3 linked regions of the Homo sapiens genome follow. The protein of the gene in region 2 interacts with the protein of the main gene of each other region in a biochemical or structural test. Each region holds a gene or a part of one and is shown on either strand. Other genes may lie near its edges. The genes, in order: ECE1, KNG1 and MEP1A.

Evidence for each region.
Region 1: of the proteins of KNG1 (region 2) and ECE1, one has a biochemical effect on the other in vitro, tested with the Homo sapiens proteins (one study listed by BioGRID).
Region 3: of the proteins of KNG1 (region 2) and MEP1A, one has a biochemical effect on the other in vitro, tested with the Homo sapiens proteins (one study listed by BioGRID).

What each region holds. Positions count from the first base shown.
Region 1 is NC_000001.11:21,289,079-21,292,678, reverse strand, and holds the start of ECE1 (endothelin-converting enzyme 1), read left to right. Parts: upstream 1-2,215; 5' UTR 2,216-2,264; coding exon 2,265-2,315; intron 2,316-2,463; exon of another isoform or gene 2,464-2,480; coding exon of another isoform or gene 2,481-2,522; coding exon 2,523-2,609; intron 2,610-3,600. UniProt on the Homo sapiens protein: Converts big endothelin-1 to endothelin-1.
Region 2 is NC_000003.12:186,734,146-186,737,971, reverse strand, and holds part of KNG1 (kininogen-1 isoform 1 precursor), read right to left. Parts: intron 1-3,826. UniProt on the Homo sapiens protein: Kininogens are inhibitors of thiol proteases.
Region 3 is NC_000006.12:46,831,209-46,835,034, reverse strand, and holds part of MEP1A (meprin A subunit alpha precursor), read right to left. Parts: intron 1,962-3,826; coding exon 1,497-1,961; intron 458-1,496; coding exon 284-457; intron 1-283.

The sequences.
Region 1 (3,600 bases), on a different chromosome or scaffold from region 2:
GTTGAGCACCTACTCTGTGCCGGGTGATGGAGAGTCTCTGTTGGACAGGCCAGACAAGGTCCCAGCCCCAGTAAAGCTGTGGATTCTGGAGAGGGACAGAGACAGTGATGATAAAGACATGGAAACAAAACAGTCTGCAACAAGTACTGTAAAGGAAAACAAACAGGATGCTGTAACAGAGAATTTGGGGGACTGCTTAGGGTTCCTGGGACATTTGAGGAGCTGGTAGGCTGAGATCTGAAGTTGGAGCTGACCATGGGAAGAGTAGAGAGGAGGAAAAAATGTTCCAGATAGAGACAACAGCAGCTACAAAGGTCTTGGGGGAAGAAGAAACTTGTAGAAACTGAGGAGTTGTGTGAGGAGGTTGGTGGGGGAGGGGGCGCTGGCAGCACAAGATGAGGGCCCAGAGTGGGCAGGGGCCATGGGGCCTGGTGAAGGGTTTGGATTTCATTCCAGGACAGTGGAGGGTTTTTAAGCAAGGGAGTGGTAATATCAGAATTTTTTTTTATTTTATTTATTTACTCAGACAAGATCTTGTTGTGTCGTCCACGCTGGAGTGCAGTGGTGCAATCACAGCTCACTGTAGCCGCCACCTCCTGGCTTCAAGCGATTCTCCCACCTAAGCCTCCCAAGTAGCTGGGACTACAGGCGCATACCACCACGTCCTGCTAATTAAAAATATATAATATATAAATATATATATATATATTTTCTTTTTGTAGAGATGGGGTCCGTGTTGCCCAGGCTGGCCTAGAATTAGACTCAAGTGATCTCCTGCCTCAGCCTCCCAAAGTGCTGGGATTACAGGTGTGAACCACTGAACCCAGCCAGATTTCTGTGGTTTGTTTGTTTGAGATGGAGTCTCACTCTGTCACCCAGGCTAGAGTACAGTGGCACAATCTCAGCTCACTGCAACCTCGACCTCCTGGGTTCAAGCGATTCTTCTGCCTCAGCCTCCTGAGTAGCTAGGATTACAGATGCATGCCACCAGGCCCAGCTGATTTTTTGTATTTTTAGTAGAGATGGGGTTTCATCATGTTGGCCAGGCTGGTCTTGAACTCCTGACCTCAAGTGATCTACCCAACTTGGCCTCCCAAAGTGTTGGGATTACAGGCGCGAGCGAGCCATGGTGCCTGGCCTCAGCCAGATTTCATTTTAAAGGCTCATCCTGGCTGCTGAGGGGGCTGTCAGAGGGCAGGAGTGGAAGCCAGGAGACCATCTGGAGCCATTGCCCTCACTGTCCCTGTGACGTCAGGCCCCTCACCCCTCTAAACCTGTTTATTCACACATATGTGTGACTGTGAGAATCAAATTTGGAATGAGCAGAAATGCACTTTGCAAAGCTGAAAAGTACGCATAAATGCAGGGATTCCCGCCTTGCTAGAAGCGGAGAGTCCTTTGGAAATCTGCTGGGTTAGACCTCTCTGGGGTTCTTGGTTGGGACAGTGCTGGGCCTGAGTCCCTAACTGAACACCTCATATCCGAGAGAGCCCCCTTTCCCTGCCTAGGGTTATAGGAGAGGGCTCAGGGGCTGGGGAGGGGGGCACCTGGCTGAGGCTCCGAGTCTTGAGGGGGAAGATGGGAAAGAAGGGTCCCCTTCCTGGCTTCTGACTCCCCCTGGAGCAATGGTTCTCTTGTGTTGCAGGGAGGGCGACACCTTTGAGCACGGGGGTGACCACCGGACCACCCTGCAGCCATCCAAATGCACACACACAGCTCCTTTCATCCCGTGTCAGGGAGTTCTCTGAAATTTTCTGAAACTCATTCACGAACTCTGGCTTAAAGGCCTCTGAGCTAGAAAGGGGAACTGAAAGGGGACACCTACCTTTTTACCCCACCTTTTTTGTCTGGTCTTTCTAGCATTAACCCCCTAGACACACCTAAGGGCTGATGCCGGGGGGAACCTGTCTTGATTGCTCTGGGCCACATCGAGGGCACCTTCCTGATACTTTTGTTATCTGCCACTGGGGACCCGGTTGTTGAAGGGGGACTTAAGATTTTCTCGAAGGAGGGGTCACTGTGAGGGCCTTTCCTGCCTGCTAGGGGCTTCAGTTTGGGGGCCCCCACTCCCGACCTCCGGGGAAGGGAGGGGTCCCCATCTCCCCCGGGCCTCTCGGGTCTTGGGGTCTCCCCGGGAGGCCGGAGGTTGGGAACCGGGCGCCGGCGAACCGATCAGGCCCCGCCCGCGAAGGTGGTGCAACGCCTGGCCCGGCCCATCCCATCCCGGCCACCCGGGCAGCGGGACCAGGCGTCTGGGGCACAGCATGCGGGGCGTGTGGCCGCCCCCGGTGTCCGCCCTGCTGTCGGCGCTGGGGGTGAGGCGGGCGCGGCCTGGAGGGCGGGGGCGGGAGGCGGGCGGGACCCCTCCCCGCGCGGGCCGCTCCGTGGGCCGGTCTCGGTCTCGGGTGTCCAGGCCGGGGCGGGGCGCGGCGGCGGCGGCGCCAGGGTCGGGGCCGCTTCCCCATTCGGGCGCGAGAGCCATGGAGGCGCTGAGGGAGTCCGTGCTGCATTTGGCCTTGCAGATGTCGACGTACAAGCGGGCCACGCTGGACGAGGAGGACCTGGTGGACTCGCTCTCCGAGGGCGACGCATACCCCAACGGCCTGCAGGTAGGCGCCCTCCGCTCCCTCCCGAGGTCCAGGCGCCCCGGGCCCGGGCATGCGCGCTGCCGCTGCCGCGCCCCCCGCCCCTACCTACCCCGCCTCTTCCCCTCCCTTCCCCTCCCTCGTCCCGGCATCCGGGAGGGGCCGCGCCTCCCCGCAGCTGGAGCTCCGCGCTGAGAAGCCTTCCGGAGCCCACCAGTCTCCCCTCACCTGCCCCCGCCATCCCTAGAGCCTCCCGGCCACCTGCTTCTGGGGCCACAGCCCAGGTGGCAGAGTTGAAAGCACCCCCGAGACCCGAACTGGTCCAGTTCCCTTTCCACAGAAGGCACAGTTTGTGCATGTCCCGGGACTTGCCCAGGCCCTTTACCGGCAGAGTCTACGGCTGTTTCTGTTTTAGCGTGGAAAGCCCTGCATCCCTGGAACCCACTCCCCCAGTCCGGGGCAAACTGGGAAAGTTGGTCACCTTATCCGGGAGGCAGTACCACCCTCTTCCTCTTGCCCTCCCAATACCTGAGTTTCCTGGGGCCAGAAACCTGTTCTCTGCCCCCTCTCCCTGCCCCTTTTCCAGCCTACTAAGGAAGTCCAATTCCTCCCCTCCCCAGGGTCTCCGCCCGTGGGCATCCCATCTGCCCACTCCTGGGGAGGGCCCCACCCCCGTCCCTGCCTTGTAACAGGACATTGAGCAAGGCTGCTTTCTGCCCTCCCGTCCCTGGGGGGCTGCACTGGGACAGTTGTGGCCAAGACCTCAGTGCTGGAGGGGTTTGGAGCCAGCCAGGTGCGTGGGAAGGTGCTGGAAACGCTGCGGACACCCTAGGAGACCCAGTGATCTGGCTCTTGAGAAGCCAGTGTAGAAAGAGGAGCTGGGGCACCCCAATTCTCGGAGGACTTCTGCCAGGTAGACCAAGGGAAGTATTTGGGAGAATCTTGGGGCCACTTGGTGAACTGGCACACAACTCTTCCCAAAGGCGAGCTTAGGATGAATGGACGCTTAGTTGCC
Region 2 (3,826 bases):
AATCTCTAGCAACAGTTTTAATCACTACTCAACACTATCTTCCATTAAATATTTTGTGGCCCAATTTCTCAACCAAATTATTTAGTATTAAATCATAGTATTTAAATGTGTTGGCCGGGAATAGTGGCTCCTGCCTGTAATTCCAGCACTTTGGGGGCCTGAGGCGGGCAGATCACCTGAGGTCAGGGGTTCGAGACCGTCCTGGCTAACATATAATGAATCCCTGTCTCTATTAAAAATACTAAAAATTAGCCGGACATGGTTGCAAGCATCTCTAATCCCGGCTACTTGGGAGGCTGAGGCAGGAGAATCGCTTGAACCTGGGTGGCAGAGGTTACAGTGAGCCAAGATCACGCCACTACACTCAAGCCTGGGTGACAGAGTGAGACTCTGTTTCGGGAAACAAAACAAAACAAAAACAAACAAACAAAAAACAACTAAACAAATAAATAAATATTCACCAAAACCCAGGATGAGGAAGGCCTTTCTTAGGTGAAAAGCAGAGGAAAGAAATCTGAAGGAAGGGGAAAATACTAAAACTTGACTAGAGAAAAATGAAAACTGCTTCTGAAAAATCACAATAAGCAAAGTAGAAAGGCAAGCTGGGAAAACTATGATATAGAATCAATGTCTGTATGAATATAAAGCCCAACACTAAAAATGGACAAAAGCCATGAGCAGGTATTTCAGAGAAGTTAAAACGGTCATTAAGCCTAAAAAAAAGTTTAACTTCATTAATAAACAAAAACATGCACATTAAAAAAGCAATGAGACATCATTGTTAGCCTTCCATGCAGGCAAAGATGAAAACAAAAATTGATGATACGTGGCATTGGCCAGGCATAGGAATCAAGCAGCCTCAGTCACTGCTGGTAGGAAGAGAATTCAAATTAAGATCCTCAACTGGTGTCTTTTTTCTTTTATTTTTTGAGACGGAGTCTCACTCTGTCACCCAGGCTGGAGTGCAGTGACACACACTGCAACCTCCGCCTCCTAAATTCAAGTGATTCTCCTGCCTCAGCGCCCCCAAGTAGCTGAGATTACGGGCAAGTGTCACCACACCTGGCTAATTTTTGTGTTTTTTGTAGAGATGAGGTTTCACCATGTTGGCTGGGCTGGTCCCAAACTCCTGACCTCAGGTGATCCGCCCGCCTCGGCCCCCCAAAGTGCTGGGATTACAGGCATGAGCTACCACGCCTGGCCTCAACTGGTGTCTTATACCCAGGTGATGTGAATGTAAATTGGCATCATTGCAAATATTTGGTGATTCTGGCAATTTGCATCAAGTCTTATATATCTACATATTATTTGACATTCCTAGGACTTTGTCAAAGGAAAAATTTCTGCATGTGCACACACAGATCTTGGAAGTTTATTCATCTCAGCAGAGGCAGACAGGAGCATCAACAGCCTTGGGGACAGCAGCAGTGGTGGTAGGGCAAAATAAAACTTATATGAAACTGTAATCACTAATGTGTGAAAATGGAAGATTCAGGAAGTGTTTCATATCTGAAATATGAACCCAACGTGGAATCAACATGCATCCAAACAGGACTAAATGTGCAAACCCAAGGCAAGATTAAAACTATAAATATTTAGCAATTTGGCAAATTGGTCATTTTGGAGACTAGCTTTTAGCAAATTCATCATATGTTTAATTGATTTCCAGTAAATTGGCTGCTTCCATCAAGGCTGCCTTGGGTGACTATGTCCAAGCAACCAAATTGCTCTCTTTAAATGCAAAAATTAGTAAAGATTTATCTCTCTAAAGTAAGTTTGAAATTCTTGCAATATTCAGATTGACTTGGCAGCTATCTGATGGGTTACCTCTTTGTGTCCCCCTGACATCCTTAATGTAGACACATATGCATACTAGAATGTTGATTCATTAATCCACAGAGAAAACTGTAACTACTAAGAAGACTAGATATTCATGCTTGAGAATGAGTGGTTCTGTTTTTGATGGCAAACCTCTGACATACAATACATGGTGGCCTATTCCTACAACATTCAGAATAAAGAATAAGGGAGCTGGGTGCATTGGTGTGCGCCTGTAATCCCAGCTACTTGGGAGGTTGAGATGGGCACATTGCTTGCTCCCAGGAGTTCGAGTCCAGCCTGGGCATCATAGTGAGACCCCCATCTCTCTCTCTTTTTGTTTGCTCTGTTGCCCAAAGGGTCTTGTTCTATCACCTAGGCTAGAGTGCAGTGGCACGATCACAGCTCACTGCAGTCTCGACCTCCCAGTCTCAAGCAATCCTCCTACTTCAGCTTCCCAAAGTAGTTGGGACTACAAGCACATACCACCATACCCAGCTAATTTTTTAATTCTTTTTTTTTTTTATTATTTTTTGAGATGGAGTTTCACTCTTGTCACCCAGGCTGGAGTGCAATGGCATGATCTTTGCTCACTGCAACCTCCGCCTCCCGAGTTTAAGTGATTCTCCTGCCTCAGCCTCCCGAGTAGCTGGGATTATAGGCACCCACCACCACACCCAGCTGATTTTTGTATTTTTAGTAGAGATGGTTTTTCACCATGTTGGTCAGGCTGGTCTCGAACTCCTGACCTCAGGTGATCCACCTGCCTCGGCCTCCCAAAGTGCTGGGATTACAGGCATGAGCCACCACGCCTGGCCTTTAATTCTTTTTTTGTAGAGACAGGGTCTTGCTATGTTGCTCCAGCTGGTCTCGCTCCTGGGCTCAAGTGATCCTCCTGTCTCTGCCTCCCAAAGTACTGGGATCACAGGCATGAGCTACCATGTCTGGCCCGCGTCTCTCTTAAAAAACAACAACGAAAAAAGAATAAAATAATTTCACAAGAAAGCAGAAATATAAAGTGAGAAGTTAAAGCTGAAAAAAGCATGAATAGCATAGATTGGCGTCCCTTTCAAGTAAACCTAACGTGGTCATATGGCAATGAAATCAGAGAGAGAGGGTGGTTGTGTCTGGGATAGAAACAAGTGCTCAAGTAGCAGAGAGATCAAAGTATCAGTTTTGATTTACTTTAATCTAGTTTGTTTACTTTTTTTCAGTTACAAAAGTAATACAGAAAATTAGAAAGATTAAAGTAGTGTTATTCCATCACCTAAAAATCACCACTATGACTATGAGGCATTCGTTTTTTTGTTTGTTTCCAGGTGGAGTCTGACTCTGTCGCCCAGGCTGAAGTGCAGTGGCACAATCTCGGCTCACTGCAACCTCCGCCTCCCGGGTCCAAGCCATTCTTGTGCCTTAGCCTCCTGAGTAGCTGGGATTGAAGGTGTGCACCACTACACCCTGCTAATTTTGGAATTTTTATTAGGTTGGTGCAAAAGTAATTGTGATTTTGCCATTACTTTGGCAAAAACCACAACTACTTTTGCACCAACCTAATATTATAGATGGGGTTTCACCATGTTGCCCAGGCTGGTCTCAAACTCCTGACCTCAAGCAATCCACCCACTTCGGCCTCCCAAAGTGCTGGGATTACAGGCGTGAGCCACTTTTTTTTCCCACATTATTTTCTGTACTTTAAAATAACACAACTGATAACATCATGTATATTCAATTTTATGCCTCCTTTTTTTCACTGAATATTATAACACAAGACATTCCCCATATCAAGAGCTCCGCACAAAGATGCTTTTAAGTTGCTGCTTAACACTCTATTCTGAGGATATGCCAGACATGATCTAATCATTCTCATATTAATCATTTTGACAGTTTACTATTTTTGCTGTTATACTTAAAACTGCAGTGAATATCATTGTATATAAAGACTCCTACTTTAGATTCCTAGAAATTCAATTCTGAGCCAAAAGTATGAACTTTTTAGTGAGAATTTTTT
Region 3 (3,826 bases), on a different chromosome or scaffold from region 2:
AAGCATAAAATTAGCATGGATAGGCTGATGGAAACTAAATTGAAATCAGTGAACGGTTACCTCTGATAAAATTATCAAAAAGATGACACTAAAATTTCAGTTTCTTTCAAGGACAATTAAAATAAAGATGTGAGTCCTTGACCAATTGAATAAAATGTGATTCTCCTACAACACATTGTTTTAACCTCATCCCCACCCTCCGTGTGTGCTTTAAAAATCAGGATAAAATCAGTAGAGTGCCAAGAGCATAGGATTATTTACTCAGGAAGACCAACAAAAGTACCTTCAAAGTCCACAAATATGATGAGGTCATCATTTTTCAGGAAACTCCTCCTTTTCAGCATTTGGTGGGAAATGAAACCACTCCAGCCCAAGTCGATGCTTCTAAAACAATTACAGTCCGTATGATAGGTTCCCACCCTGGACGGCCTGTCCCAGATGACAGTGTCATTTATCGCTGCAAAGTTGTAGGTAACATAAAATCACATTACCTCTTTAGACTTCACTTTCCAGTTTGTCTTTAATGAGGATACAGGGCTTTGTGAATCAGAAATAAATAAATAAATAAATAAATAAATAAATAAATAAATAAATAAATATAAAAATAAAAAAAGTGTTGGAAAAAAATTAGGCTATTTACTATTTCCAGGAGAATTGCAATTCAGAATTGAAAGATGGGAGAGGCAGAGAATCACAGCTCTGAGTGATCAGTTGTCTGCTACTGAGCGACTTTCTTAATGAAAAGAGAGGGACAGCTACGGCTTCTTTCTTCTAAGGCTTAAGTCTTCTCTTTTGAAAAAAAAAAAAATTAGTGCCAGGCGTGGTGGCTCACGCCTGTAATCCTAGCACTTTGGGAGGCCAAAGCGGGTGGATTGCCTGAGCTCAGGAGTTCAAGACCAGCCTGGGCAACACGGTGAAACCCCATCTCTACTCGGGAGTCTGAGACAGAAGAATTGTTTGAACCTGGGAGGTGGAGGTTGCAGTGAGCCGAGAATGCGCCATTACATTGCAGCCTGGGCGACAGAGGGAGACTCCATCTCAAAAAAAAAAAAAAAATAGTTTGCCCATTTCTTTACTGATGTAAGTTTACTTCATGAACATAGTAACATTGAGTACTATTTTAGGAGTAAGTACATTAGCTCTGCACAGAGCCCAGCAAGTTCCAAGTATTTGATAAATGATTAGCAGTATCTATTTCCTCAATCACAACGAGCTCAGTGAGGCAGGGATCACCTGATTCACTTGTATTCTAAGTACCTAGCACCGACTTTGGCACATGGTAAGCCCTCAATAGATGTTTGATGAGTGAATTTAGGAAAGGGAAGGAGGATGTGATGGCATTGAAAATCTTGACTTGAAACTCCAACAAGACTATGTTATTGGTATTCCCAAACAGACAATGTGAGGAGAACGTTACTCTTTCTTGCACCACAGAATCACATCTGTGGGCCTCTCTGGTTCAAGGGGCAGTTCTTATTTGCGCTGACACCACCCACCTGGAGATGTGTGCGACTTCGAGGTAGTGAACACCATGCTTGAGGACATCCTGTTCCGGACATCAGGCTCCTGGTCAAGGATGGTAATTATCACCTGTCTGTTTTCTACCGGCCACTCCAGGATAGCATCGTTCTCCCCACTGCACACATGAAAAGCAAGTCTCAAGTAACCAGAGCTTTCTCTGCTATTTGGGTATAAAGTTACCCCAAAACCATATCCCTCCGAATTGTAGAATCGAGGGCTCTGAAGCTTGTCCCCTTTGCTGGTGTTCTCAAGGACTTGGGAGAAATTCCGGACTGTCCAGACCCCTGTGGGGCAGGGGGTTTCTGTCAGAGTGATGTCATCTAGGTAAATTCCCCCAGTTGAGTTCTGAGGGTCGCCTTTTGTGCCCTGGAAAAGGTAGCGAAACTTCTGTTCCTCTTTGAGCACCACATGGGCAATTTTCCAATTGTGGTCATCATCTCCTGAGGACAGAGAACAAGGCTGGTGAGAACTGTGACCAACACTTAATGAGTACTTATTATGAGTTTGGCACAGTGCCATGTGCTTTCCATAAATTATCTCATTAAATCCTCACAACAGCCCTATAAAATAGGTACTGTTATAAACTGGTTAAGTAACTTTTCCAAAGTTACATACCTAATAAGGAAAAATTGTTTTTTAAAATACTATGATTTATTTTAAAATTCACATTCAAATCTTAACCGTGAATTTGTTTTCCACTATAAGAATCCAGGTTCTGGATTTCCTCCTGAGTTGGCTGGTTCAACTGTAACCCCTAAGGTTAGCAAAGAAAACCCAAGTGTTAGGCTGAATCATATAAAATAGCCATTTTCTAAGCCAAAAGTAAAAAAAATAGTAACTCCATATGGTCCGACCTGTCACTTGTTGCCAGAGAGCTATAAGGAATGCTGAAGAGCAGATAATAACCTGTAGGACTGACTGGATCTTCCCTACCTAAAACTGACTCCCTCTCCAACATCTAGACTTTTTTCTCTTCCTTATATTATCTGAAAGTCCACCATGTAGGGGAGCAAAGTAAGCCAAATAGAGTACTATTGTCTGGAAATGCACGTTCTAATAAAGATTAGGTCTACTTGCTTTTTCTCTGAGCATGAACTAGAAGTGGGACTTTCGAATTAAGAGCTGAGGAAAGATGGTGAGAAGGCCGTTCTAGAACATAGGATCCTGGGTTGAACAGTATAAGAAGCCAGACAGGAGCTTGGGGGTACTGGAGAGAGGAAACTGCGAAAGCAAAGCAACTCAATTCCGCAAAGAGATGTGCCTACACTGATATTTTTGCACAGGGTATTCCCTAGAGTTGGGCTTGAAGAGGAGAGGAAAAATGCTTCCAAGTGGAAGTCATGTTGGCTAAACTGAGTTCCTACAGATGAGTGTCTTTTTTCCTTCTTCTGTGTCTTTTAACCAGATATCTACTTATAGAACTATACTTTCCCTGAAAAGGAAAAGACCTTTAATCTCCCTTGTGTTTTCAGGCCATTCTCTCTAAGTACAACTTCAAGGGACAGGTCTAACAATGTTCTGTTTCTTAGGGTGGAGCTGATTATGGCCTGTGTGGTTAGGTTACATGGGAACACAGGAGAGAGGTAGGTTACATGGGAACACAGGAGAGAGGTAGAGAAGGCACACGACCACCTCTGTAACATACAAATCTAGGCAGCTGCCCTCTCCTGCGGAGAGCATGGCAGCCTAGTGGAAGACACATGGACTTGAAGGGTAATAGGTGCCAGAAAGTCTAGGAATAGGAACAGAGATATAGGATTTGAACTATTTATCCAGCAGGTTATAGATCATGGGAATTCTGTCAAGAGAATAGGATTCTGTTCTTGCTGATTAGTACCTGCTTTGTTTTTTCTTAATATAGGATGTCAAAATGAGGTTGAGATGGGGGAATCTGGCACTGGGAAGGAGACCCAAGAGGCTATACCACATAGGCAGAAATTCATCTATGAAATTATTAAGATGGTTTCGTTTACATGCTTCCACAGGGCTGCCCTAAATCAGTCAGGCAATAATGCTACTACGATTGTTTGAGACAAATTTAATCCCTGTTAGTTCAGAATTGTCTTCTATAAGGAAGTCCTGGCCTCAGTAAAAACGTGTGTGTGTGCATGTGTGTGTACATACACATAGTTGTATGCCAACATTTTTCATGTAAGTTTGTATATAAGCATTATGTATGTAACATATATTATATACAGATATGCATATGGAGACATTTTGTGTGTAAGTGTTTTGGTCAAAATATACATTTTGCAAAACTTAAAAGCTATTCAAATTGGTTGCGACTGTCTTAAGTTGAATATCA